7 linked regions of the Homo sapiens genome follow. The protein of the gene in region 7 purifies or fractionates together with the protein of the main gene of each other region. This does not show direct contact. Each region holds a gene or a part of one and is shown on either strand. Other genes may lie near its edges. The genes, in order: MLYCD, ZNF518A, REEP5, RAB2B, MB21D2, COP1 and LDAF1.

Evidence for each region.
Region 1: the proteins of LDAF1 (region 7) and MLYCD purify together in Homo sapiens (affinity purification with mass spectrometry; one large-scale study listed by BioGRID and IntAct). This does not show direct contact.
Region 2: the proteins of LDAF1 (region 7) and ZNF518A purify together in Homo sapiens (affinity purification with mass spectrometry; one large-scale study listed by BioGRID and IntAct). This does not show direct contact.
Region 3: the proteins of LDAF1 (region 7) and REEP5 purify together in Homo sapiens (co-immunoprecipitation; one large-scale study listed by IntAct). This does not show direct contact.
Region 4: the proteins of LDAF1 (region 7) and RAB2B purify together in Homo sapiens (affinity purification with mass spectrometry; one large-scale study listed by BioGRID and IntAct). This does not show direct contact.
Region 5: the proteins of LDAF1 (region 7) and MB21D2 purify together in Homo sapiens (co-immunoprecipitation; 2 studies listed by BioGRID and IntAct, with this or other methods). This does not show direct contact.
Region 6: the proteins of LDAF1 (region 7) and COP1 purify together in Homo sapiens (affinity purification with mass spectrometry; one large-scale study listed by BioGRID and IntAct). This does not show direct contact.

Annotation. Positions count from the first base shown.
Region 1 is NC_000016.10:83,905,615-83,909,114, reverse strand, and holds part of MLYCD (malonyl-CoA decarboxylase, mitochondrial), read right to left. Parts: intron 2,129-3,500; coding exon 2,016-2,128; intron 990-2,015; coding exon 833-989; intron 1-832. UniProt on the Homo sapiens protein: Catalyzes the conversion of malonyl-CoA to acetyl-CoA.
Region 2 is NC_000010.11:96,154,297-96,157,796, reverse strand, and holds part of ZNF518A (zinc finger protein 518A), read right to left. Parts: intron 2,472-3,500; 5' UTR 2,421-2,471; exon of another isoform or gene 1,874-2,420; 5' UTR 1,750-1,873; intron 1,601-1,749; 5' UTR 1,475-1,600; coding exon 1-1,474.
Region 3 is NC_000005.10:112,884,228-112,887,727, forward strand, and holds part of REEP5 (receptor expression-enhancing protein 5), read right to left. Parts: intron 2,957-3,500; coding exon 2,788-2,956; intron 1-2,787. UniProt on the Homo sapiens protein: Plays an essential role in heart function and development by regulating the organization and function of the sarcoplasmic reticulum in cardiomyocytes.
Region 4 is NC_000014.9:21,466,960-21,470,459, forward strand, and holds part of RAB2B (ras-related protein Rab-2B), read right to left. Parts: intron 2,258-3,500; exon of another isoform or gene 2,250-2,257; coding exon of another isoform or gene 2,227-2,249; intron 2,221-2,226; exon of another isoform or gene 2,134-2,220; coding exon of another isoform or gene 2,083-2,133; intron 1,794-2,082; coding exon 1,711-1,793; intron 1,491-1,710; coding exon 1,398-1,490; intron 1-1,397. UniProt on the Homo sapiens protein: The small GTPases Rab are key regulators of intracellular membrane trafficking, from the formation of transport vesicles to their fusion with membranes. Rabs cycle between active GTP-bound and inactive GDP-bound states.
Region 5 is NC_000003.12:192,911,357-192,914,856, reverse strand, and holds part of MB21D2 (nucleotidyltransferase MB21D2), read left to right. Parts: intron 1-3,500. UniProt on the Homo sapiens protein: Probable nucleotidyltransferase that catalyzes the formation of cyclic dinucleotide second messenger in response to some unknown stimulus.
Region 6 is NC_000001.11:176,043,287-176,046,786, forward strand, and holds part of COP1 (E3 ubiquitin-protein ligase COP1), read right to left. Parts: intron 3,039-3,500; coding exon 2,895-3,038; intron 533-2,894; coding exon 424-532; intron 1-423. UniProt on the Homo sapiens protein: E3 ubiquitin-protein ligase that mediates ubiquitination and subsequent proteasomal degradation of target proteins.
Region 7 is NC_000016.10:21,165,174-21,168,673, reverse strand, and holds part of LDAF1 (lipid droplet assembly factor 1), read right to left. Parts: intron 1,835-3,500; coding exon of another isoform or gene 1,763-1,834; intron 1-1,762. UniProt on the Homo sapiens protein: Plays an important role in the formation of lipid droplets (LD) which are storage organelles at the center of lipid and energy homeostasis. In association with BSCL2/seipin, defines the sites of LD formation in the endoplasmic reticulum.

The sequences.
Region 1 (3,500 bases), about 63 Mb from region 7:
CTCTTTCACACACAAACATTGTAAGGGAATGTGTTTCTCCTTGGTGATCAGGAATGTCTGCTCATTTGCCCTACTCAGCTTCTCTAACTTCTCAGCAGGACACCTGCTTAGGGCACTCATCTTGTGATGGGCCATCATCCACTTAGCTTCCTAACAGCCACTCATGTCCTCTTGGTCTGAGCAAACCTGCAATGCCCCAGGGGTCTCATGCTCCCTGCCACCTATCTTTAGCACTCCTATTTCCAGACCCTGCAATGTGCTCCCTGGTTCTTCTGCCCCCACGGGCCTGCAGGAGTGTTTCAGACATTCTTGCCAAACTCATCCAGGAGCAGAGCAGCTTGCCACAGACGGGGCTATCAACCACAAGTCCCATAACCTCCACTCGCCAAGGAGTGTCCTCGGCCCACATCAAGCATAAGGGATGGAGTGCCTCTTTCAATTTTCTAATCAAGTATCTTTCAAAACTCCCCACAGGCATTTAACAAAAGCTGTAAAGGTAAACTATGTATGAATCAGGTATCTGTCCCTTCTTCCTTCACAATTATTTTCTGCCTCACAAACATGTTCTGTGATAGACTTTAACTGTATCTCAACCTAAGATCAACACAGCCAGATGAATGCTCGCCTTGCTCCATAACTGTCTGCCTGTTACACTTCTACGCTCTACACCTACAAATCTGGAGATTTTATTTAACCAATTTAAAAAAGCCCAAAACCATTTATTTAAAAAAAAAAAAAAGGAGGATAAAATCAAGTAAAAACAAAACAAAACAAAAAACACAAGGGGCTCTATGGGGTGCCCATCTTGTCCCGAATTGACCATCGCAGGTACCTGGATGTTGCTGGAGATGTCACCAGTCAGTGCCACGTGCAAAACGACCAGGGGCTCCCCAGGGGTCGAACAGTGAGAAAAGAAGTAACACCTTCTGTAGGGCCCAACGCGGCGCTTCATGTCCATCCAGTTTTTTACAGGATGCACAGCCTCAGCCCTGGGGCGGAATTTATAAAGAGACAAGACAAATGCATAATTCACAAGCAACGGCTGCTGACTCCTATTCATACTATTCGTCTAAGTCAAACAAGTTCTTTAAATAGAGCTTTAATGGACTCTTCTGGAAAATTCAAAGAAAGTCATTTTCATGAGAAACAGCACCCACTGAGAGGAACTACAGTGAATGACCATTTTACACACAAAATTGTGCTCCAGTTTTAACCCCAGTTTTAAAAGGAGTTTGTGAGGCTCCGGGGAAGGATTCATGCAGATTTTAACGTGAAACCTAATCAAACGCTTGGTGTTGAACACTGTCTTTTCTTTCCTTGGGATCTCTGTGAAGCCGTCAGTGCTGCAATCAGGGGGCTCATCTGGTGTCTTCCAGCAATCTCGCCCCACCGCTATTTTGTTTTCAGCATGTGAAATGGCAGCAGGCACTGTCAGCCCTTTGAATTGAATTGGTTACATTTCAAATAGGACACTTTTCAAACCATGGATTCCATGGGACAACATGTAATGTGAAGATGCCTACGTGCAAAGGTAGTGAAGGCACCGTGACATGCTAGCCTGTGTCATACGGGTCCTGGATGTAACTAACACATGATATAGTTTGTTTAGAGATTTTAACTCAGGGAGAAATCTTAACCACCAGGTGGGCTAAATACTGTTTTGATTACGAATGCAAACGCTTGGTCCAGTGAGTTTCTACAACTCTGATCACGGGGTCTTGGGACGAGCGAAAATGGGTGTGTTTGCTTTAAATAAGAGGACACAAATAAGACCTCACACGCAGGTCACTGACAGACATATCAGTTTCTCTTGGTGCCCTTTCGTCTTCCTCCATAATCTTAGTATCATGTGTGGTGACAGCCGCAGCATTTGCAAATACTGTGTTTGGATTTTATTAGACTTGAAATAAACTGTACATATGAATGGAGATAGATTAGCTTTTAGCCAATATAAAACATACACAAATATATATGAAAAATGTATGTACAAAGAAAATGAAAACCGTAATACTTACTCACTGATTTTCTGAAGCACTTCACACGGTGAATGCCAGGTAACCCGTTCTAGGTTCAGGAACCCGGAGGAAAACCATTCTGAGAGCATTCCTTTCAGCACCCCATTCATTTCCTGAAAAGGAGAAGATAAATCCCAGGCCTCCAATGTGCGACAGATCAAGCCCATCTCTGTGTTGTGGTCAGCACAAGGAATGAAAACACTCAAGCACGATACATAAGACAATTGTGCAAGACAACTCTCCAAACAGCTTTTCCCAAGATTCCTCTGTCAGACATCTTATCTCAAACCAAGTCAGGCTTTCTTTCGTTCAACGCTCTATTTAGACTTAACTACTTCAGTCTGTTAAGACCTCTGAAGGAAACAATTCAATTTGAACTAAGTTGCCCAAATCAAATAATATCTTCCAATTCGTTCACCATAGTGAGCATACTAATCATATAAAATCAACATAACAATGAAAGATGCACTGTAAGGGAAACACTAAGACAGCAAGGGTGTCAACAGCACTGTCCTCATCCTCTCGGGAACCTTCTTTGATACGTCAAAACATTACGCCTACATTTCCTAAGAAAGACAAGTACTTGGTTCAGGAACCCTATTTCATCAACTCAGAGATGTACATTTTCATATTTTAACATCTCTCAAGTCAGGATGCATCTTTCGAATGATGGCGGGTCACAGACTAATTGGCAGCATTTTTGTTTTAAGAGACGGGGTCTCACTCGGTCACCCAGGCTGGAGTGCAACAGCATGAACACGGCTCGCTGCAGCCTTGACCTCCTGGGCTCATGTGGTCCTCCTGTCTCAGCCCCCCAAGTAGCTGGGACTGCAGGTGAGCGCCACCAAGCCTGGATAATTTTTTTTTGTCTTTTTTGTAGAAATGGGGTTTTGCCACGTTGCCCAGGCTAGTCTCGAGCTCCTGAGCACAGGCAATCTGCCTGCCTCGGCCTCTCAAAGTGCTGGGATTACAGGCGTCAGCCACTGTGCCCCGCCGTAACTGGCAGCATTTTTAACCTACCTTAGAGGGACATAAAATAATAGCGTATCTGGCAACCAATGCATTTCAGAGTTGATGAAATTATCCTAATTTTGCCTCACTTATTTATATTGTATCTACTTCCAAAAATGATGTGAATTGACTTGACCACCCAAGATACATCTGCACTGAAGCTTTTCCAGCAAGAGCAGAACACAAGGCCCTGAGCAGGAGCAGCGTCGCCTCGGTGCTGCCTGCACAGCCACAGCTTGTTGTTCCCCGATGGCTGTACCCCTTTTCTTTCAAATTAACAGAAGCCTCACTTTTCAGCTAGGGACACAGCTGTCCAGAACAAAGATTGCACTGCGGCTGGGGGCAGCCATGTGACAGAGTTCTGGTCAATGAGGGGTAAGCAGAGGTCTCCTGCAGCCACTTTGGGGAACTTGAAAAGACAGCAGGAGCAGGCCCTTGGCCCATCTTTTTCTTTGTCCTTTCCACTGCAGACTG
Region 2 (3,500 bases), on a different chromosome or scaffold from region 7:
TAGTGTCCAAAGTCTGGGGCTGCAAATTAGCAGTACCGTCCTTTGCAGCACCTGACTGTGAGCCTGGTGAACATACATTTTGTTTGATAGGCACCAATTTTAATACAATATGCTGTTTTCCATCCATCATCTTGAAGCCCATAAACGTAGCATTATAGTTAGGGGAAACTGCTAGTTTATTATTTTTCATCATTACATTTTTCAGTGTAGGTCCTAGTACAGCAGTCTTCATGAAACCTGAACTAGCGTTTGGTCCCTCTTCAGCTCTATTACCTTGCCCAGTGGACAGAGGAGTTGGCTTCTCTGACTCTGATTCAGGGGCTTTATCATTATTCTCACAGTGTAGTCTTTCATCCTTTTCTTCACTTAAATGCTCTTGAACAACATGGCTCTGGTCTTCAGATTTAGTCTGTGTTTTGTTCATTTTCTTAAGCACTTGAGTGTTCTTTTCTATACTTCTGTCACTTCCACTGTTAATTTTCTTACGTTTCCAGAACGTCTTCCTTGATGCACCTATTTTATATCTTTTCAGTATTAGCTTAAGTCCTGCAGAAGTCTTTGCCATTCTTTTTTCATATTTGTCTTTTTCCAGTTTTTCTTTTGCATATAAATGTTCTTTGTGCAAAGTTATAACATGTCTTACAAGGTGTTCTCTCCTGGTGGCACCATAGCTACAATATTGACAAGTGAAGGGAAAAGTACCAGAATGAATATGAAGGTGCTTCTGAAGCTCTCCTTTGGTAAAACATACATGATGACATTTACCACACTTATAATGAATTTCATTATGTCTATGAATGTGCTGAACAAATGTGCCAACATCCTGGGTGGAGAACTTACACTTTTCACATTGAAAATTACCATTAACACAATGTGTGGATGTGAAATGCTTTGTCAAGTTCAGTAAAGTATATACACTCTCATTGTTACAAATGTCACATTTTACTAAAGTGCTTCTATGGGTTCGTCTGTGTTGTTTAAATACCTGAAAGTCATTTGCTGAAAAGTTGCACATTTCACAAGGATATGAAGGTAATTCGCCATGGTGCCACATTTGAAAGTGTTTCTGCAAATCATTTGGGCTATATCGAGTGTTGTCTCGGCATTTTAAACAGCTGAAATTGAGTATTTTTGCAGACATTTTTACACCCTCTTCTTCAGCTCTCTCAGACTTATGAAGCAATGTACACTCCTCTACACAGCTTACAGTCTTTATACTGATAGATTTTCTTGCAGTCTGCTGTTTACTCTGAAATAATTTTCTGTATTTGTCAACTTCATGTTTCAATAGGACTTCATTTGGAATATTTATTTTTGGCAAATCAATTTTCACATTTTTTAGTGCATAATGAATACTTCCTGAAATTTTTGGTTTAGGTGCCGACCTATCAACTATCTCATTTTTCACATCATAATCTTTTTTTAAAGTAGTTTGTTTTTCATCACAAAATAACTGTTTCTGTTCAGATGGCATGATTTAACCAAAAAAGTCCCAATTTCTTTTTTTCTGAAAACTCTTGAAGTTATCTGTAATTTAAACAGGAAACGATACTGTGTAGAGACATCTTCAATATACAGGATTTTTCCCACAATAACTCACCTAAAATTAAACAAAGAATTGAAATTCTCATCACAAAAATAATAGTAAATTCGTATCTGTAAGTTCATTTTGGCACAAAGTAGGAATGTTAATCAAAAACATAAATTAAATATACAAAAGACTTTTTAAGTATTTTAAGAACAGCTTACCAAGAAGTAATAGTTTGAAGTAAAAATAACACTAATCTGGAAGTCAGGAAATGCAAGCTCTAGTTCCAGCTCTGCTGTGTGACCTTGGGAAAACTTCAACTTCTCTGGACCTCAGTTTCCTCATCTAAAGAAAACCACAGTTGGGTAAGTACGCTCAAGCGCTAAGATTTTTATATTAAGGTGATAATACAGTTTTTAAACAAGATTTTAAAAATCTTAGAATCCTAAGAAGTTCCAATTACACACATGTGGTTTATCCATATACTATTAACTTTTTCATTTGCTTAGTTGATCTAATAGCTATTCCCTGTGAGAATCCCAACAGACTTCTCTCCAGATTTTCTATTTCCTTAGTTCCTCAGGGATAATCTACAATTAAAACAAAAGCTTCATTCATCTAACGGAAACAACCAAAGACGGTATCTGCTTATCATTACTAACAAGTTAGAAACCAAACAAAAAGAACAAAAAGGAAGAAATTAAAAAGAACAGCAGCACCATTTCCCTAGTGTAGTCCTAAAGTCCATCTACTCATTACCTTTCTGGTTCCCTACCATTTTGGCTATATGAATTTATATCCTCAGAACTCAAGCCAGATGACAGCAAGGAAAAGCCCTTGGCAGATTAGAACATACCCATCACTACCTACCTGCATTAATTCAAGCACTTACTGGTCATGTTACTTTAGACAAGTCTCAACCTCTGTGTCTCAGTTCCTTCATCTGTAAAATGGGGGGAAAAATTAGTACTTCCCCTATGTCTTTCACAAGGTTGTTGTGAAGATAAAATGAGAAAATATATGTAAAAATATCCTTTAAAGTGCCATATAAATCACAGCTACCACTATTACTCTATGTGATTACCACGTATGGGACATAACAATATATTGTTGAGACAGGAATCTGAATACTGAAGGTTCAGTCATTAATATATCAAACTGTATTATTAGAAAAATTACATGTTTTTAATTTTGTGCTTTATATATATATATATGTATGAATAGACAAAATCAGATAAGCTAAACAAAACATAGTATAAATCACATTAAGCTCCTCATCCATAATGTCTATCCAAAGGTCTCAGCTTTAAACTTCAATTAATCTAAATACCTACAAACTTTACTGTTTTAGAAATCCTTTACTGAGGGAATCATTAAAAGTTGAATTACATATTAAGAGATCTATAATAAATTAATCAGAAGGGTACCAATTATTGAATTGTTTTACATGCCATGACTAATACAGTAAAATGTGAATCCAGAATGGGATGTTTGTCATAAAACTTTAGTATTACAAAGAAAAGGTAACACAAGATGAAGGCCTCATGAAGGGTTTTTAGGGCCCTAAAAGAAGAAAAGCTGAAAAAGTAACTGGAACTGTCAGGAAACCAGGAGAAAAGGCTGAGAAGAATTATCTGATGGCTATTCTTAAACTAAGATGGGGCTTACAGATGATTTCAGAATGACTAGCCAAGCAGAGCACTTGTCTTTCTAGGAGAATGAACTAGACACTAATTGAAGGCTCTACAATCCAACAGTCAGGTTTTAACTCACTGCTTTGTTAAGAGAAAAGAAAAGAAAAAAAAGAAAAGAAGGCAGGAAGGAAGGAAAAAAAAGAAAAGAAGGAGGGAGGGAGGGAGGAGAAAGAAACGAAAGAAGGAAGGAAAGGAAGAAAGGAAGAAAGAAACAGAGAAAGAGAAAGAAAGAAAAGATTGATGACAGGGTCTCACTCTGTCGCTCAGGCTGCAGTGCA
Region 3 (3,500 bases), on a different chromosome or scaffold from region 7:
ATGTGATACGTCTTCCAGCCTCCATTCGCAACTTCTTCCACCTCATCTCCTCCTGCACCCCTCTAGATCACTTCTTTTGTTGCTCCCACCTCCGGACTTCTGTATATGCAGCTCATTCTAAAGTATGATTCCCCATGGTTCCTTCTTTTACCATTTTCTATTTTTTTTTTTTTTTAGGGGGATAGGGTTTTGCTTTGTAACCCAGGCTAGAGTGGCACAGCTCACTTGCAGCCTTGATTACCTGGGCCCAAGTGATCCTCCTGCCTCAGCCTCCTGAGTAGCTGGCACCACAGGCTTGCATCACAACGTCCGGCTAATTTTTAAATTTTTGTAGAGAGCGGGTCTCCATAGGAGACCCTGTCACAAACAAGCTGGTCTCAAACTTCTGGCCTCAAGTGATCTCCTGCCTTAGCCTCCCAAAATGTTGGGATTACAGGCTGAGTCACTGTTCCTGATTCCTTTACTACTATTGAGTCTGATTCAGTAGAGCCTTCTGGTATAGATTTCCTAAACGTCTCTATTTAAAATCATAACCATCCCTCCAGTCCTTGGCCCCCCCCCATCTTTCTACTTGCTTTATTTTTTCCCTATATTATATGGTAAATATACTATCTAATTTTCAATTTTACTGCCTATCTCTCAACTAGACTGTAAGCTTCATGAATTCAAGGAGTATGGTCTCTTCGGTATGCTGGTTCACTGCCAGTGTTATGAACATGCTTGGCACATATTAAACACCTCAATAAATAAATATTTATTGAGTGAATTAATCAGAGCTGAGAGTGGACATTCTTTTGTACCCATAACAAAAACTGAACAGCATACTGAACCGATCAATCTGAACTGAATCAGGCTGGCCGTCAGGGCCTCCAAAGTACTGCTTCTGTCTGGTCAGCCTGCTGCTACAGCCTTGGCCAGCTAGGCCCTGCTGCTCATGGTGCCAGCCCAGAGAGGAGCCAGCCAGGAGATGGTGAGTGCTGTGGGGGTGGGGAGCCCCAAGGAGAAGGCACTGAGGAGGAAAAACAGGATTAGCAGCTCAAACTGCCAGAGACAGAAAGCAAGCTCAAATGAGTGACCTGAAACAGCAAGTGGTAGATTTAGAACAGAACCAAAAACTTTTGCTAGAAAATCAGTTTTTACAAGAGAAAATGCATGGACTCGTAGTTGAGAACCATGAGTGAAGACAGCACTTGGGGATGGATGCTCTGGTTACTGAAGAGGAGGCGAAAGCCAAGATAATTCCATCTATTTGATGCTTGACATCCCTAACTAGGCAGATGAGGGTAGAAGTTAGTTGTGGTGGGGTTGGAAGTAAACATCAACTACCTTCCCAGTATGATATCCTGTTGGGCATTCTGGACAACTTAGACCCACTAGTGTTCTTCAAATGTCCTTCCCCAGGGTCTGCCAGCCTGGAGCAGCTCCCAGAGGTCTACTCAGAAGGACCCAATTCCTAACCAGCCTCCCTTTCTCTGTCAGTGGGGACATTATCAGCCAAGCTTGAAGCTATTAATGAACTAATTAATTTTGACTACATATATGCCAAGCCCGTAGTCTGAGACAGAGAGCCAAGCTAATGCGGTAGTGAAAATCAAGGAAGCACCTCTCAGCCTTTTAGAGAATGATCACCCAGAATTCGTGGTCTCAGTGAAGGAAGACTTTGTGGAAGATGACTTCATTCCAGACCTGGGTATCTCCAATCTACTTCCATCCAGCCACTGCCCGAAGCCATCTTCCTGTCTACTGGATGTTTACAGTGACTGTGGGTATGAGGGCTCCCCTTTCCCCTTCAGCGACATGGCCTCTCCACTTGGTGCAAACCATTCTAAGGAGGAGACTGGCCAATGAACTCTTTCACCAGCTGGTTAGTGTCTAAGGAGTGATCCAATACTGTTGCTCTTTTCCTTGACTATTACACTGCCTGGAGGATAGCAGAGAAGCCTGCCTGCGCTTCATTCAAAACGTCACAGAGTGTACAGTCCTAGAGAATTCCCCTATTTACCTGTTTAAACGTCATAGATAACCCCAAGTATTGTCTTTTGGCATCCAGCAGTCCAAGGTATTCGATATGTTACAATTCAGAACTATAGGTTTTGAGGTTGTACTTTTTCTAAAGAGTGGTAGTTTGCCCTAAATATTTATTATGTGAGGGTGATTAGACAAGTGTCTTAGAGTAGACATGGAATTCATGAATGGCTCTTTATCATTTCTCCTCCCGCTTTTTGGCATCCCAGGCTTGTCTCTAGTTTTAGGTCCTTTAGTTTTCTTCTGCAAGTGGAGAGAACACATACCTGAGGGGGCTCTTTTCCCCTCATGTACAGTTCAAGTAAAGATCAAGAATTTTTTGTAAAATTATAGAAATTTACTACGTAAATGCTTGATGGAATTTTTCCTGCTAGTATAGCTTTTGAAAGGTGCTTTCTCCATTTATTTAAAACTACCTATGTAATTAAGTATAATACAAAAAAATTAAATAAACAATTAGAAGAGATGGACTTGCATATCAATATAGATGATTCTCTAAAATCGCTGCCTACCAAGGAAAGTCATTTTTCCTAATGTTCTGACTGAAGGCTACATTAAATGTGGCATGGAGGAAGAGTCTTGGGAAAAGTCGAGAACTGTAAGTGTTCTCAATAGGCAAAGACTTTGTAAAGAAATCCCAGAGTAATGTTGGCATTTGGCTGAGGGGTGGTGATAAGACAAGAAGGCCAGGAAGCCTGTTATTTGAGCCCAGTGTGTCACATCTCCTCTCACATGTGGGGCCATCTTGTTCCTGAGTCTTACCTTCTTTAGTGATGGCATCTGCAGTCTCTTTGGCCTTGTCTTTAAGGTCCTTGACCACACTGTCCATCTGGGACTCGTGCTTCAGGAAGAAAGGACGGATGATGCGCTTGTAGAGCAGTTCAGCCCCATTAGAAGGGCTCGGGGCCATGCACCACAACAGGAAGCCACACTGCACAGAAAAAGAGCCAGCATGGGTAACAGGAGGGTGGAGGGGGCACATTCTGAGAATACACACTGTCTTTCACTACTCTGGGGATGGGAGATGCCTCTGTTATTTTCCCCAAAGGCATTACCAGTGTTTTCTGCAGGTTAAAGGTGGGCTTTCTTTAGATGGAAAAAACATGATGAGTAATGAGCTGGTAAGGAAAAGCTGAGACTAAAAAACAAAAGGTAAAACACACCAGGTCCAGGAGCTTAACTATCTTCCTAACTTGGACCACGTTTTAGTATATAGCTGTAAGAGGCTTTTATTAATCATAACTCTTAGAAATCAATTTAAGAAAATATAGTACTTATCTGCATGTATAAAGCCCTGTACAGATAAGCCTAATATCTAGGAGGCCTGTGCTTGGTAGGCTTATCTTGGTAAGTTTATCACATTTATTCATCCTATTATGGAAAAAATACCTTGTCCATTCCTGAATTCTTCCTTTGGTGGACCTCAGTTTTGGGTAGATCTTAGCCTTCAAGGAATCTTTACAGTTGTTCTTCAT
Region 4 (3,500 bases), on a different chromosome or scaffold from region 7:
GCAGTGGCACTATCTCAGCTCACTGCAACCTCCGCCTCCCGAGTTCAAGCAATTCTCCTGCCTCAAGCTCCCAAATAGCTGGGACTAGAGGTGCGTGCCACCACGCCTGGCTACTTTTTGTATTTTTTCAGTACAGACGGGGTTTCACCATATTGGCCAGGCTGGTCTTGAACTCCTGACTTTCTAATCTACCCACCTCGGCCTCCCAAAGTGCTAGGATTACGGGCTTGAGCCACCACGCCTGGCATATTTTTTCTTTTTTTTATATAGGGTCTCACTCCTGTTGCTGAGGCAGGAGTGCAGTGGTACAATTACAGCTTCATTGCAGCCTCGACCTCACAGGCCCAAGTGATCCTCCCACCTCATTTAAAAATTTTTTTGTATAAACAAGGTCTCACTATGTTGCCCAGGCTGGTCTTGAACTTATGGACTCAAGCAATCCTTCCAGAGCTGGGATTACAGGCATACGCCACTGCGCCTGGCCTTTTTATTTTCAAACAGTTACTAAGCGGTTATAAAAAATACTCATGTTGTTTGGGTATAACTATTTAACAAAACTATTAGGTATTTCTTTTGGCCTATGGGTGTCAAAAAAAATTTACTGATAATAACCAGTGTTGTTAAGGATGTAGAGAAACTGGAATCCTTGTACATTGCTGGAAAGAATGTAAAATGAGACAGCTGCTATGGAAAATGGTATGGTGGTTCTTCAAAAAATAAAAGAATTACCATATGATCCAGCAATCCCACTTCTGGGCATATACCCAAAAGAATTCAGAGCTGGGACTTGAACAGATCCATGTTCATAGCAGCATTATTCACAATAGTCAAAGGATGGCAGCAACCCAAGTGTCCATGGACAGATGGATAAACAAAATATTGTGGTATATGCATACAATGAATATTACTCATCTTTAAAAAGGAAGGAAATTCTGACACATGCTACAATATGGATAAACCTCGAAGACATTATGCTAAGTGAAATAAGCCAGTCACAAAAGCACAAATATTACATGAGTCTACTTGTATGAGGTACCAGTAGTAGTCAAATTCATAAAGTAGAATGATGGCTGTCAGGGGCTGAGGGATGAGGGGGATGGGGGAGGGAAGATGGAGAGTTAGTGTTGAATGTGTATAGAGTTTGAGAAGATGAAAAAGTTCTGGAGATGGATGTTGGTGATGGCTGTGGAACAATGGATATTCTTAATGCTACAGGACTGTATGCTTAAAAATAGTTAAAATGGTAAATTTTGTGTCATATATATTTTATCACAACAAAATTTTTTTTTTTTACTGAAACACTAAGACCACTATAAACTGAGAAAGTTTGGGGATCAATGTGCATAGAGTACCTAGATGACTCCTGTTAACTATTATTCACATGGATACAATTTTACCTCTTATTCCCAATGAGCATGATAACCATGTTGGAACTAGAGTGCTGCCGGGCATCCTCTAACCATGAGGTCAGGTGGTTGAAGGTTTCACGCCTACAGCAGAAAAATTTAGAATGTGGGTCAGAGACACATTTCAAAAGGCCAAAACAACTCCAAGCGTATACGAAAAGAGGGGAAGCCATACGTGTAAAGAAAAATATTAGAGAGGCCATTCCTAGTTAACATCCTTAACAGAATCAGTAGATAGAAAAAAAAAAAAAGCTTTAGAGGATTTAGGGAAGAATCTCCCTCCCATGCACCAGATCTGGCTCACCTTGTAATGTCGTACACCAGCAGTGCTCCAGCTGCTCCCCTGTAGTAGGAACGGGTGATAGAACGGAAGGATTCTTGCCCAGCCTTTCCCACCAACATGGCAACAAAAAATCCCAACAAAACCAGGTTATTTCCACAGAACCGACTTGATCACATGCCACCCTAATACAAAGGACTTAACTAAAAAAAGAATTTCTATTACGAAAAGAGAATTAGGGAAAGAAAACATGCCTGCCCGAGAAGAAACCCAAGTGGGAAATCAATATTTTTCTATGGGAGTGCATTGATATTTTGGGCAGTCACTTACTCTTCCTGAGAGACTGTCCATCAGATTAGTGGATGTTTAGCATCCTAGATCCCAGTCACTAAATACCTGTGGCACCCCAGTCAGCACGATAAAGACGATGAAGACATTTGCATACATTTCCCAATATCCTCATAAAAGAACAACTGGAAATAGGACTGGAAACGGAGTGTATGTCATTTTTTTCAATCCCAAATATGATATTGAACACACCATATTAATCTTTCTGTTCCCATTTCTTTATCTGTAAAAAGGAAAGTTATCTTAGAATGCCAAAACCTGGTCTAATAGAAATTTCATTCCAATGAATCAATATAAAAATTAGATTAAAAGCACTTCAACTGATTATCTTCTAACTGACCTTTAGTGTTCCACTGATAATGCAAGACTACCTAGATGTCCCTTGCTGGGCTTCTGTCATGGGAAATAGGAATAACAAACAGAGAAAGAAGCCCAGGGCCCAGCATAGAGTTTTCCTAGAAAAATCCAAATGTTCACACTCTAATCTCATTTCCAGTTGGACAAAGATATTAAGTTCTATTTAAAACTGAGTAATTTATTAATGCCCCCATAATACTGGGTACTTTTGCTTTCTTGATGGACTAGTTCTTTTTTTTTCCTTTAGGGAAAACAAAAACATTTTTTAAATAATATGAATACCCTGTACATTGAATCTATCCTATTAAGAAAGTTTTCACATTCTTGAAATAATTTATCCTTACATCCCTACATAACAGGAGGTAAGACTATAATTTATAGGTTACAAATGGGAGAATCATGATTAAGGATGTGGGAAAATAAATGGCTTTCTCATAGTATAATACCAGTAACAGTGGTAACACTAATTATAACACTGCAATAGTACTATAAACTACTTTTTGGCATATAAAATGTGCTACGAACTTTAAGAGACAATTACATATATTATTTCATTTACTTCTCTTAGCAACCCTGGGGCCGATATTATTATTCCCTTTTTTTTTTTCTTTTTTTTTTTGAGAGGGAGTCTCGCTCTGTTGCCCGGGCTGGAGTGCAGTGGCGCAATCTTGGCTCACTGCAACCTCCGCCTCCCAGGTTCAAGCAATTCTCCTTGCTTCAGCCTCCCAATTAGCTGGGATTACAGGCGCCCACCACCATGCCTGGCTAATTTTTTTGTATTTTTGGTAGAGATGGGTTTTCACTATGTTGGCTAGGCTGGTCTTGAACTCCTGACCTCATGACCCACCCGCCTCGGCCTCCCAAAGTGCTGGGATTACAGGCATGAGCCACCGTGCCTGGCTTATTATTTCCTTTTAAAAATGGGGAAAATGAGGCTCACACAAGTTTAATAAACGGCCCCAAATCATAAAGCTTATTAAGTGCTAGAGCCATAATTTAAACTTAGGATCTTAGTACTTCCTAGGACAAAAACTTGTCCTCTTAGCCACTATATCATATAACCTAAACTGGGGTTTGTAGGTGAGAAGAGAATTCCAGTATACTAACTC
Region 5 (3,500 bases), on a different chromosome or scaffold from region 7:
CTGTCAACACCAAGACACTCCACTGTCTTATCAAAGTAGGGTTCTGCACAGGCTGTGGGGTTGATCTGAGCTTGCTGGTGGTCACTGTGGTCTCTGGGGTCTGTCCTGATGCTCTCTGTTTGTACAGAGATTCTGATTTTTTTTTGGAGGCAGGTGTTAGCTGCAATTGTCTAGATTCACTTCTTATTCCTCTGTACCTTGGTCTTTTAGGAGAATGATTGGTGTTATTATCTAGTTAATATTTGAGAGCCCAGACTGTGCGAAAGGCTGGCAGTGCATAATAAACACCATTTATCAAAATTCAGGGAAATTGCCAGAGTTCATTAATGTTTTAATAATATTTGGTATTAGCATAATGTCTCTGCCAGCTCTTTTGTTATCTTCATTCCCTGGTGAGGTTCGATAGAGACTGGTTTGTGTCCCCATTGAACAGATGCAGAAAAGGGGGTATGCAGATGCTGGAGAAGGCAGGAAAGAAACAAGCCGTCACCTAACCTACAGACCAAGTGGTCGGTACCATGGCATGATTTTTACGGTAGTTAATCATTTACTAATCATCTTCTCAGGGCCAGGAACTTCACATAGACTTTTGAGGAGGTATTGCTTTCCCATTACATAGATGAAGATATTGAAATTTAGTGGGGTGAAGAAAGTGGATATCCAGGGTCACAAAGCTAATAGATGGTAGAGATGCTACTGAAACTCAGGTCAGCCTTACTCTAAAACATGTTCCTCTTCTCCTACTTGAGACTATTAAGAATAGATGCATAAAATCCAGAGGAAAGGCTTTGTTTTAAAAAATCACTTCTTTCAGGATTTTGTTTCGATTTTAGCTATAAGTTTTAGCGTAATATAAGTAGATTTCTGGAACAGTCTGAGTTCAAGTATTCTATAATAAGATCTCCTATTTGAATTTTTGATTGAGAAAATCATAGTAATTATAATAAAATGTTAAAATCTATAGTTTCATTCCCAGTCTGCCTCTTGTTGGCTTTGTGGTCTTAGTATTTTCTCTCTCTTTTTTTGAGACAGGATCTTGCTCCGTTGCCCAGCCTGGAGTGCAATAGTATGATCATGGCTCACCGCAGCCTCAAAGTCCTAGGCGTAAGCTATCTTCCTGTCTCAGCCTCCCTAGTGGCTAGGACTAGAGATGTGTACCACCGTGCCCAGCTAATTTTTTATTTTTTAAAATTTTTGTGTAGATGGAGTCTCACTATGTTGCCCAGGCTGGTCTCAAAATCCTGGCCTCAAGTGATCCTTCTGGCTTGGCCTCCCAAAGTGCTGGTATTACAGGCATGAGCCACCATGCCTGGCCAGTTTTTTCATTTATTAAACATGGATAACAGTAAGCATTGTTTTTCAGAACTGTTATGTCAGAATGTGAAATTACTTTGCTAACTAAAAAAGAATATATACGTGAGTTTATTATTTAAATAAATGTTTGTTTATTTATTTATTTGAGACAGGGTCTCGCTCTGTCACCTAGGCTAGAGTGCAGTGGTACAGTCTCAGCTCACTGCAACCTCTACTTCCTGGGCTCCAAGTGATCCTCCCACCCCAGCCTCCCAAGTAGCTAGGAGTGCAGGCGTGTAACACCACGCCTGGCTAGTTTTTTGTATTTTTGGTAGAGACAGGGTTTCGCCATGTTGCCCAGGCTGGTCTCACACCCCTGAGTTCAAGCAATCCTCCTGCTTTGACCTCCCAGAGTGCTGGGATAAAAATATACTTTCTTAGAAGATCCAGTGAACTTAAATTGGAATTATTTCTGCAGCTTGACATCTGAAAGAACTATGCAGTACAATTAGGGTAGCCCAGGAGGATTTTGGCTCATACCATGTGCTGACCATTGTGCTAGCTACTTTGCCTAAGTCCATTAGCTCATGTAATCTTTTTTCCACAACTTTGTAAGCATAAGTATCATGCCTATTTTGGAAGTGAAATAGGTGTTGTTACCCTTTTTAAAGATGAAATGGTGAGGCTCAAAGAAAGAAGTCAAGAACTTAGGCCAAGATCATTCAGAGTTGGAGACTGAATCCAGTTATTCCTGACTCAGAAGCTCATGTTCCTTTTACTGTAGTAGCAATCAGTTTCCATCACTTTTGGGTGAGACATACTATACTCAGTAGCCTGCCTAGTCTGTAGGAGCAAAGATAATTTCTTTTTTTCTTTTTTCTTTTTTTTTTGAGATACAGTTTTGCCCTTGTTGCCCAGGCTGGAGTGCAGTGGCATGATCTTGGCTCACTGCAACCTCTGCCTCCTGGGTTCAAGTGATTCTCCTGCCTCAGCCTCCCGAGTAGCTGGGATTACAGGCGCCCGCTACCACACCTGGCCAATTTTTGTATTTTTAGTAGAGATGGGGTTTCACCATGTTGTTGGCCAAGGCTGGTCTAGAACTCCTGACCTCAGGTGATCCACCCACCTCGGCCTCCCAAAGTGCTGGGATTACAGGCGTAAGCCACCATGCCCCGCCTGAGATAATTTCTTTTTGTCTTCCTGTCTCTGTCCCTCTTTCTCTCCCTCTGTTTTTTTCACGCATTTGACAAATACTTAATGAATGTAATAGTGTTTGCCAATCAGCGTGCAGGGTTCTGAAGATAAAATGGTGAACAAAAACTTTGAGAAATTCATAAGGGCCTTCAGGGACCCCTCCCCTGTTTCCTTTGCCCACCAACTCTAGCAGGATATTTTGCTGGCTGTTTCTCCTTTCAGGCCAATAAGTGCCATGTGGCCATTTCAAAGATGTAAATGCTTGGTGTGGTGCTCCTGGACCTACCATATTTTTAGGCACTTTCTACATCTCCAGAGTGGGTAATTTTGAAGCCCTACCTTTCCAGTGTTTGATTGCTACTTTTCTGTTAATGAATTCCCCCAGCAGGATTTACCATGGAAATTTATGGTGCGTTGGTGTTTTATGGGCCTCCATGTGCTTGGAAAGTTCCCGAGAGTTGTATTCACTATGTGCTGCATCTGTAGAGTGCACAGGATCATCTCGGAAGTTTGTTCTATCTCTGAGAACATTATGTATCCAGGGCAGGGGATCTCTCCAAACATTCATTTTTGTGCTAGTTTGGATTGGTTTCAATTCCCCCTCCATGGTTCTGGGCAGTGGCTGCCCTTCGTCCTTGAGAGAAGAGGCCTAGAACTGTCGACAGTCCTGGGTCTTCCTGTCATTCCTTGTCATGCCACTCATTGGATAATACATTGCTCACAGTTAGGCTGAGCCCCTTTTTAATTCACAGAAATATTAGATTCTAACAATTCAAAATCTCTGGTCCCATTCAGACCTATTGAATCCGAATTCCCTAGAGATCCCCCAACAAGCTGCTCAGCATGTCAACATCCTGTCCTGTGTTAGGCTTGATGTTCTGCATTCTCTGTTCTAGGCACAGTGAGCATGATCCCAGTTGACTTTTGAGACTAGAACCAAGCTGCTGAGCCTAATGAGCAGATAATGTCTGTCTGCTCCTGGAAAGTAATAGTGGAGTTCTTCCACCTGGGAC
Region 6 (3,500 bases), on a different chromosome or scaffold from region 7:
AGTAGCCTCAGATAGAATACAGATCTCAAAATGAATAAAGCAAGAAAAAAAAAAACCTGATATCAATTTATTGTTACGGGGAGAGGGAAAGACAACAGGCTAGAAAACAAATGAAAAGCAAATAAGATGTTGATATAAAGTACTTCCAAAACTTTTTATACATTTACCAAAATTATTGCTTTTAGAAATTTACCTGATACATTCCATAAAGACCGAAGTCTGAAGAAATGCTTTGGAAAAGCATATGGTACCAAAAGTGGGAGACAGGAAAAAAAAGCATTTGGTATTGCATAGGTGTTACACAGGTATAAAAAATACTAAATAGTGACTTCAAATCTGTAATTATAAGGCACATGAAGTTCTAAAAGTTTTAACAAACCAAATGTATGATTCATATAACATGTAACTAGTACCCTTATTTACCTGATAGACCTTTGACCTCTGTCCTGTGAATCCATCCCATAAAATAACAGTGCCTTCATAATCACTGCTAGCTAACAGGTTCTTATGGTAACTACTCCAACTGATACAGCTGAAAGAAATACAGTTAAAAGTTACTTTACATAAAAATAAATAACAATGGGATAAAAATAATTTTAATGTGTTCAGAAAGATTTGCACTATTTTAAAATGGTCTCTATCAGTTCACAATCATTATTCTGCCCACAACATACCTGGGAAAAGACATACCAATAATTTTGAAATTTTAAAAATAAAAATTAACAAGTAATGACCCTAACCACCTTTTACTGTGATCACTAGCTGTTAAGATGGATGTGAGCCTAGAGCTATCACTGGCCATCTTTGATACATGAGGAAACGATGTCTATCAGTGAAGGTGATACTATCCAGAGGGCTCAAGGCATACCATGGCAGAATGACAGACCTGATGAGACTGTTTAACCCCCTGGATCCAGTTGTGCCAAATCATATAAGCCAAATAAACTACAGTGAATTGGGTTTCTGTATTTACATCCCAAAAGTCTTGACTTGACTAATTATAACTTATGACTAAAATTCCAATTAAAAGCATCTAAAAGTTAGAATCAAACTTTTATCATTTATGGTTTTGGCTATTCTCAAGTACTCCAGAAGTCTACAACATCTAAAAACTTCTGCTGAGATACATATCTGCATCACGCATATAGTAAAGGGAATGCATATTATGGAAGAAGTTACTTAGAAGGCAGTTAATGTAGGTAACTTCTAAGACATGAACACAAGGTCTTTTGCTTTCTACTAGTTGCATTGATGCTAAATTCCAGAGACTGGAAGAGTTTATTTGCATTTTTAAATATACTTAATTAGAATTTCTGGTAGAAATTATCTGGAACAATTAAGAGACACATTTTGAATTTAGGTAGACTTGAGTTCAAATTCCAGATCTGTTACTTATTAGCTGTGGCTCTGGCTAATTTAGTACACTTTCACAGTAGATGTGCTCCGAATCTATTTTAGGCATCCTTAGGTATTGATCCTTTCAGCCCCAGGCCCACAGCTTTCAGCCTTGAGCGCTTTCACCATTTATTCCAATATATCAGGAAGTATTGCACATTTTTACACATACAAATACAGAACAGGTAGACAGCACATTTAAACTTTCTAATCCACGTTTTCATTATGTAATATATTATGAGTACTTGCCATGGGCCAAGTGTTGTTCTGAGTGCATTATGGGGATTTTTTAAAAGTACAATCCTATTAAATAAGTATTACTATTGTGACCTCCATTTTATAAATAAGGAGCAGGAAATGTTTAAGGGCACAGACTCTAGAACCAAACTACTTCAGTCTGAATCCTGGCTCCTCTATATAGCAGGTGTATAATCTTAGGCAGGTTATTTACCTTCCTGTGCTCAGCTTTCTTTGTATAAAATGGAGCAATAATGGTAACTATTTCATAGGTCTGCTAAAGACCAAGCACTTAGGATAATGCCTGATATATAAGAATTCAATAAACTTGTATCTAATTCATGTTATATCCTCTTCACTTAGGACATAAACTATAACAGATTCTCAATGATGAGTGCCACAAATGAATGGGGAAGCTCACCAATTATCGATATAGTATTTTTATAAATGAACTAGAAAAAAGAAAGTTATAACAAATAAATTATACAAAGACTGTAACAAACATACTATGTATGCCATTCATTAAAGATAAAAAAGGTTCAAGGATGGCTATTTTGAAAATGTTCAAAGTTCTATACAAAGTTATTATTAGATGATTTCCTCATATAATTCTCTTTTAAAGCCAGTGCTCATGAGAACAGCTTGGGAAGCTTGTTTAGAAGGAAAAAAAAAAAAAAAAAAGCAGATTCTAGAATTCTTCTGAGATTTTTTGGGGAGCAGATCAGGAGTAGAGTCTTAACATACTGTTAGTGTTTAAGAGTATTTTAGGTTTGAAAAGCACTGCTTATAAAGTATAATCTCTAATACAGAAAACATAAACACCATTCCTTCAGTGAAAAGCAGAATATTCTTGTAAAAAAAATTCTTAAAACTAGAAACAATTCTAATATGTTGAGATATGTGCAGGCTAGGGGAAAAATTCCTGATGTTCAAATACTATTCATAAGCTACATTAATCCTCATTCAGTACTCCATAGAGTCTCCAACAACCATGTCCAACAAAGACCTTTATTTGATTAAGTGAAAGAAGAACTTTAATTTGGCAACCAGAAAAAAAAAAAAGGCTAACCTCACAAGAAAAAAGCAACCAATATCTGTAAGAAAGATGATATAAGTAATAATATATACTCTGTATACATAGTACAATAATAGTGTTCACCATGAGTAAAAAGTGTCATGCAAAGGTAAAATAATCTCATGATAATTACATATGCAAATTGTTACATCTATACTGCATCATGTCAAGAAAATAATGTAAATACCTGATTTTCGAATTGCAGGTCATTTCATTCTCAGGGTAATGAATATCCACTGCATCCTGGATGACAGTGTCATATTCATAGACTTTAATCTTCTTTGTAACTCCAGCAATCGCAAAATAGTCACAATCCCGGTCAAATTCAATACTAAGGGGAAAAAGTATGTAATGACAACATTTCAGAATTTGCTATTTTCTATTTCTAAAGTAATTCGGTCTACAAGGATAAAAGATCTACTTTAAATACCTTCAAATTGTACTAGACCTCATATCCAGATTAAGTAATCAACACATATCAAATTAAAAGTTGTTGAGATTTGTGTAATATAAAACTTTTAATATATACATTTGTATATCTACACAATTGTGCACAGGTGTACTTTTGTTCCAAGACACCTGACATGCTTTTCATTCAGTTCTAATAACCATATTACAGCTTACTGAGAAAGATTTAATGGCGTGAATCATTTGATATACTAAAAGTATGCCAAAAGACAATTATCAACTAATTTTTCCATACATTCTACTTATTTCCCTGCCATTTTGTGGAGGTAGTAGAATTTCACAATATTAAATTTTATTTTTAATAAATAAATTAGTATATAATTTG
Region 7 (3,500 bases):
AATCATAATTATAATATTGTATAATTATATTAGATATATTATACTAATATTAGTTATCAATATTCATATAGCATTATTATATATTATATAAATATATTATATTTATATATGTATATAATTATAATATGTATTATATTATTTATATATTATTTATTATAATTATAATTATTAAAAGCATTATTATTAAAAGCATTATTAAGCATTAAAAGCTAATCACTTGTCTATTAGTAAGCATTAAAAGCTAATCACTTGTCTATTCACTTGTCTATTAAAAGCTAAGCTCAGCATTAAAAGCTAATCACTTGTCTAGAGTCGCACAGCCTCCAAGTGGCAAAATCTCAGCATTAAAAGCTAAGGCCTGGCCAGCATGGTGGCTCATACCTGTAATCCCAGCACTTTGGGAGGTGGAGGCAGGCGGGTCACCTGAGGTCAGGAGTTCAAGAACAGCCTGGCTAACATGGTGAAACCCTGTCTCTTTTAAACATACAAAAATCAGCCAGGCATGGTGGCGCGTGCTGGTAGTCCCAGCTACTAGGGAGGCTGAGGCACGAGAATCGTTTGAGCCTGGAAGGCGGAGGTTGCAGTGAGCCAAGATGGCGCCATTGCACTCCAGCCTGGATGACAGAGCAAGTCTCCTTTTCTTTTCTTTCTTTCTTTTTTTTTTTTTGAGATGGAGTTTTGCTCTTGTCGCCCAGGCTGGAGTGCAATGGCAAGATCTCGGCTCACTGCAACCTCCGCCTCCCGGGTTCAAGCCATTCTCCCGCCTCAGCCTCCCGAGTAGCTGGGATTACGGGCGCCCCCACCACGCCCAGCTAAGTTTTGTATTTTTAGTAGAGACAGGGTTTCACTATATTGTCCAGGCTGGTCTCGAATTCCTGACCTCAGGCGATCCACCCGCCTTGGCCTCCCAAAGTGCTGAGATTACAGGCGTGGGATACCGCGCCCCACCGCAAGTCTCCTTTTCAAAAAAAAAAAAACAAACCTAAGGTCTTGGACTCAGAATGTCCAATGCTTGCAACAGCTGCCACCACATCAAGTAAAAATGCTTTTATGTCATCAACCTGGTTACCATAGTTGGCCACAGCCTGTGACTAATGCAAGTTTATGTTGTGTTAATAGTTTATTTTCCTTCACCGGGCAAAAAGGAATTTTCGATCTGACTCAATGGAGGGAGACTGCTTTAACGCAGAGCTGGCCATAGGCAAATCCGCAAAGATGGGTTTCCCCCTCTCCTCCTTAGGCTCCACGCCTTCTCTCTCCTCAGTACTGGTATTCTAGATCCTGTTCACTTGAAAGGAACCATTATTCCAGAACCTCCTTCCATCATAACTGGTCCTTCCTGAGCCTCATCCCTACGGCCTTGCAGGCCAACAGATGAAAAGAAGACATAATTCAGGTCCCCAAAACACATGTGCCTCCTAGGAAGAAGAGTTTACCCAAGTGGTTTAAACAGTGGGATTTTCAGGGCGAGTTGGAAGGCAGGAGGGGTTTGTGGTTCATGCTGAAGGAACTAAAGTGCAAGCTGCACCCTGCTTAAATAAAAGAGGCCATGCCAAGAAGCCACAGCCATTGGTCTTGGGCTTCAGCGTGGTCTCCTAAGGATTACTCTCGAGGCATGGCCAATTTCACTCCCTGCCAGGCCACAGGACGGCATAATGCCCGCTGACCTCACTGCCTCCTGCTACCCCACCATTCTGACAAAAGCCACCAAAGAGCTTGCTATTCCGCTTCTCTAGCCAGAGATGACTGTAGCAGGAATCACCTTGGAGCCAGCACTGCCCAGCCTGGACACTCCATCATCAGAGTCCAGTGAGATCCTGCTGTGTTGGGGCAGCTGAAAGAGAAAGAGAGGCGGAGGAGCCGTGGGAGTCACCACACAGAATGTGGGCTGGTCCCTTGCGCTGTCTCAGGTCCTGACTTCTTTCCAGTTCGAATCCACATGCATCCTTATTTGATGCTCCCTGTGTCACCTGATCTTTACAATCCAAAGAACCACAGTGGGGAGAGCAGATGGGCTCTCCAGGAAAGGGAGGCAGCAGTACACCCGTGAGTATGCTGCGCCAGCGAGGGAAGGGCTGTGCAGCGGAAGGAACTTGTGAGGCTGGGACACCAGGACACTGGGCTTGCTAGCTTATCCCCGGGCTGTCCATCACAGGCCACCTGCGCCATTCAGCACTTGAAATGCTCCTCCTGTGACTGATGGCCTGGATTTCCAATTTAATTTAATTTAAATTTTAAAGCTGAGACTTGATTCAGTTGTTGGAAAAATTTTAAGTATGTTTCCAATAGGTTGGGTATGTGAATCTATTTCGCTGAATTGTAAGTTTTATAAAATCTGAATAGAGATTAAATATTTCCAATGAAAATTTGGCATCAGAATTGAGATGTGCTTTAAGTGTAAGAAAAAAAAATGCAAAATATCTCATTAATACTTTTTTATATTACCTGTTGAAATTATAGTGTTTTGGATATATTGTGTTAAATTGAGAATATATTATTAAAATTAATCTCTGGCTGGGCACGGTGGCTCACACCTGTAATCCCAGCACTTTGGGAGGCTGAGGTGGGCAGATTACTTAAGATCTGGAGCTTAAGACCAGCCTGGTCAACATGGTGAAACCCCGTCTCTAGTAAAAATACAAAAAAATTAGTCAGGCAGAGTGGTGCGTGCCTGTAATCCTAGCTACTTGGGAGGCTGAGGCGGGAGAATCACTTGAACCCGGGAGTCAGAGGTTGCAGTGAGCCGAGATCACGCCACTGTACTCCAGCCTGGGCGACAGAGCGAGACTCCATCTCAAGATAAATAAATAAATAAAATTAATCTCATTTGTTTCTTTTTGTTTTTAATGTAATTATTAAAAAACTTAAAATTATATATGTGGCTCACATAATATTTCTGCTAGACAGCACTCATTTAAATTTCATCTGGGAAAAAAAAAACAGGGAACAAACTGCTGTCATTTGAGCAGAACTATGACATGATTAAAGGAATGATTTAAGAAATATGAACCTAGCAATCATGTGCAAGAGGCAGGTAGAAAGATTTGCAGGAAATCAGGCAAGATATACTGTGGTCAAGTCCAGGCTGATGGCAGAGAGGGAAGAGAAGGGGGAGGGGTAGATGGGTATGAAAGTGGAATGACAAAAGAAGGAATACACAGGACTTAGGGACTGTATGGCACAGGGATATAAAAGGAAACAGGCAAGACTGTTCCACTTCAGTCCTTAAGGAATCCACCTTTTTCTTAGCCTTTTGTTTTTTTGAGATGGAATCTCACTCTATTGCCCAGGCTAGAGTGCAATGGCATGATCTCGGCTCACTGCAACTTCCGCTTCCCAGGTTCAGGCGATTTCCAGCTAATATTTATATTTTTTAGTAGAGATGGGGTTTCACCATGTTGGCCAGGCTAGTCTCGAACTCCTGACCTCAAGTGATCTGCCCGCCTCGGCCTCCCGAAGTGCTAGGATTATAAGCATCAGCCACCATGCCCCGCCATTCT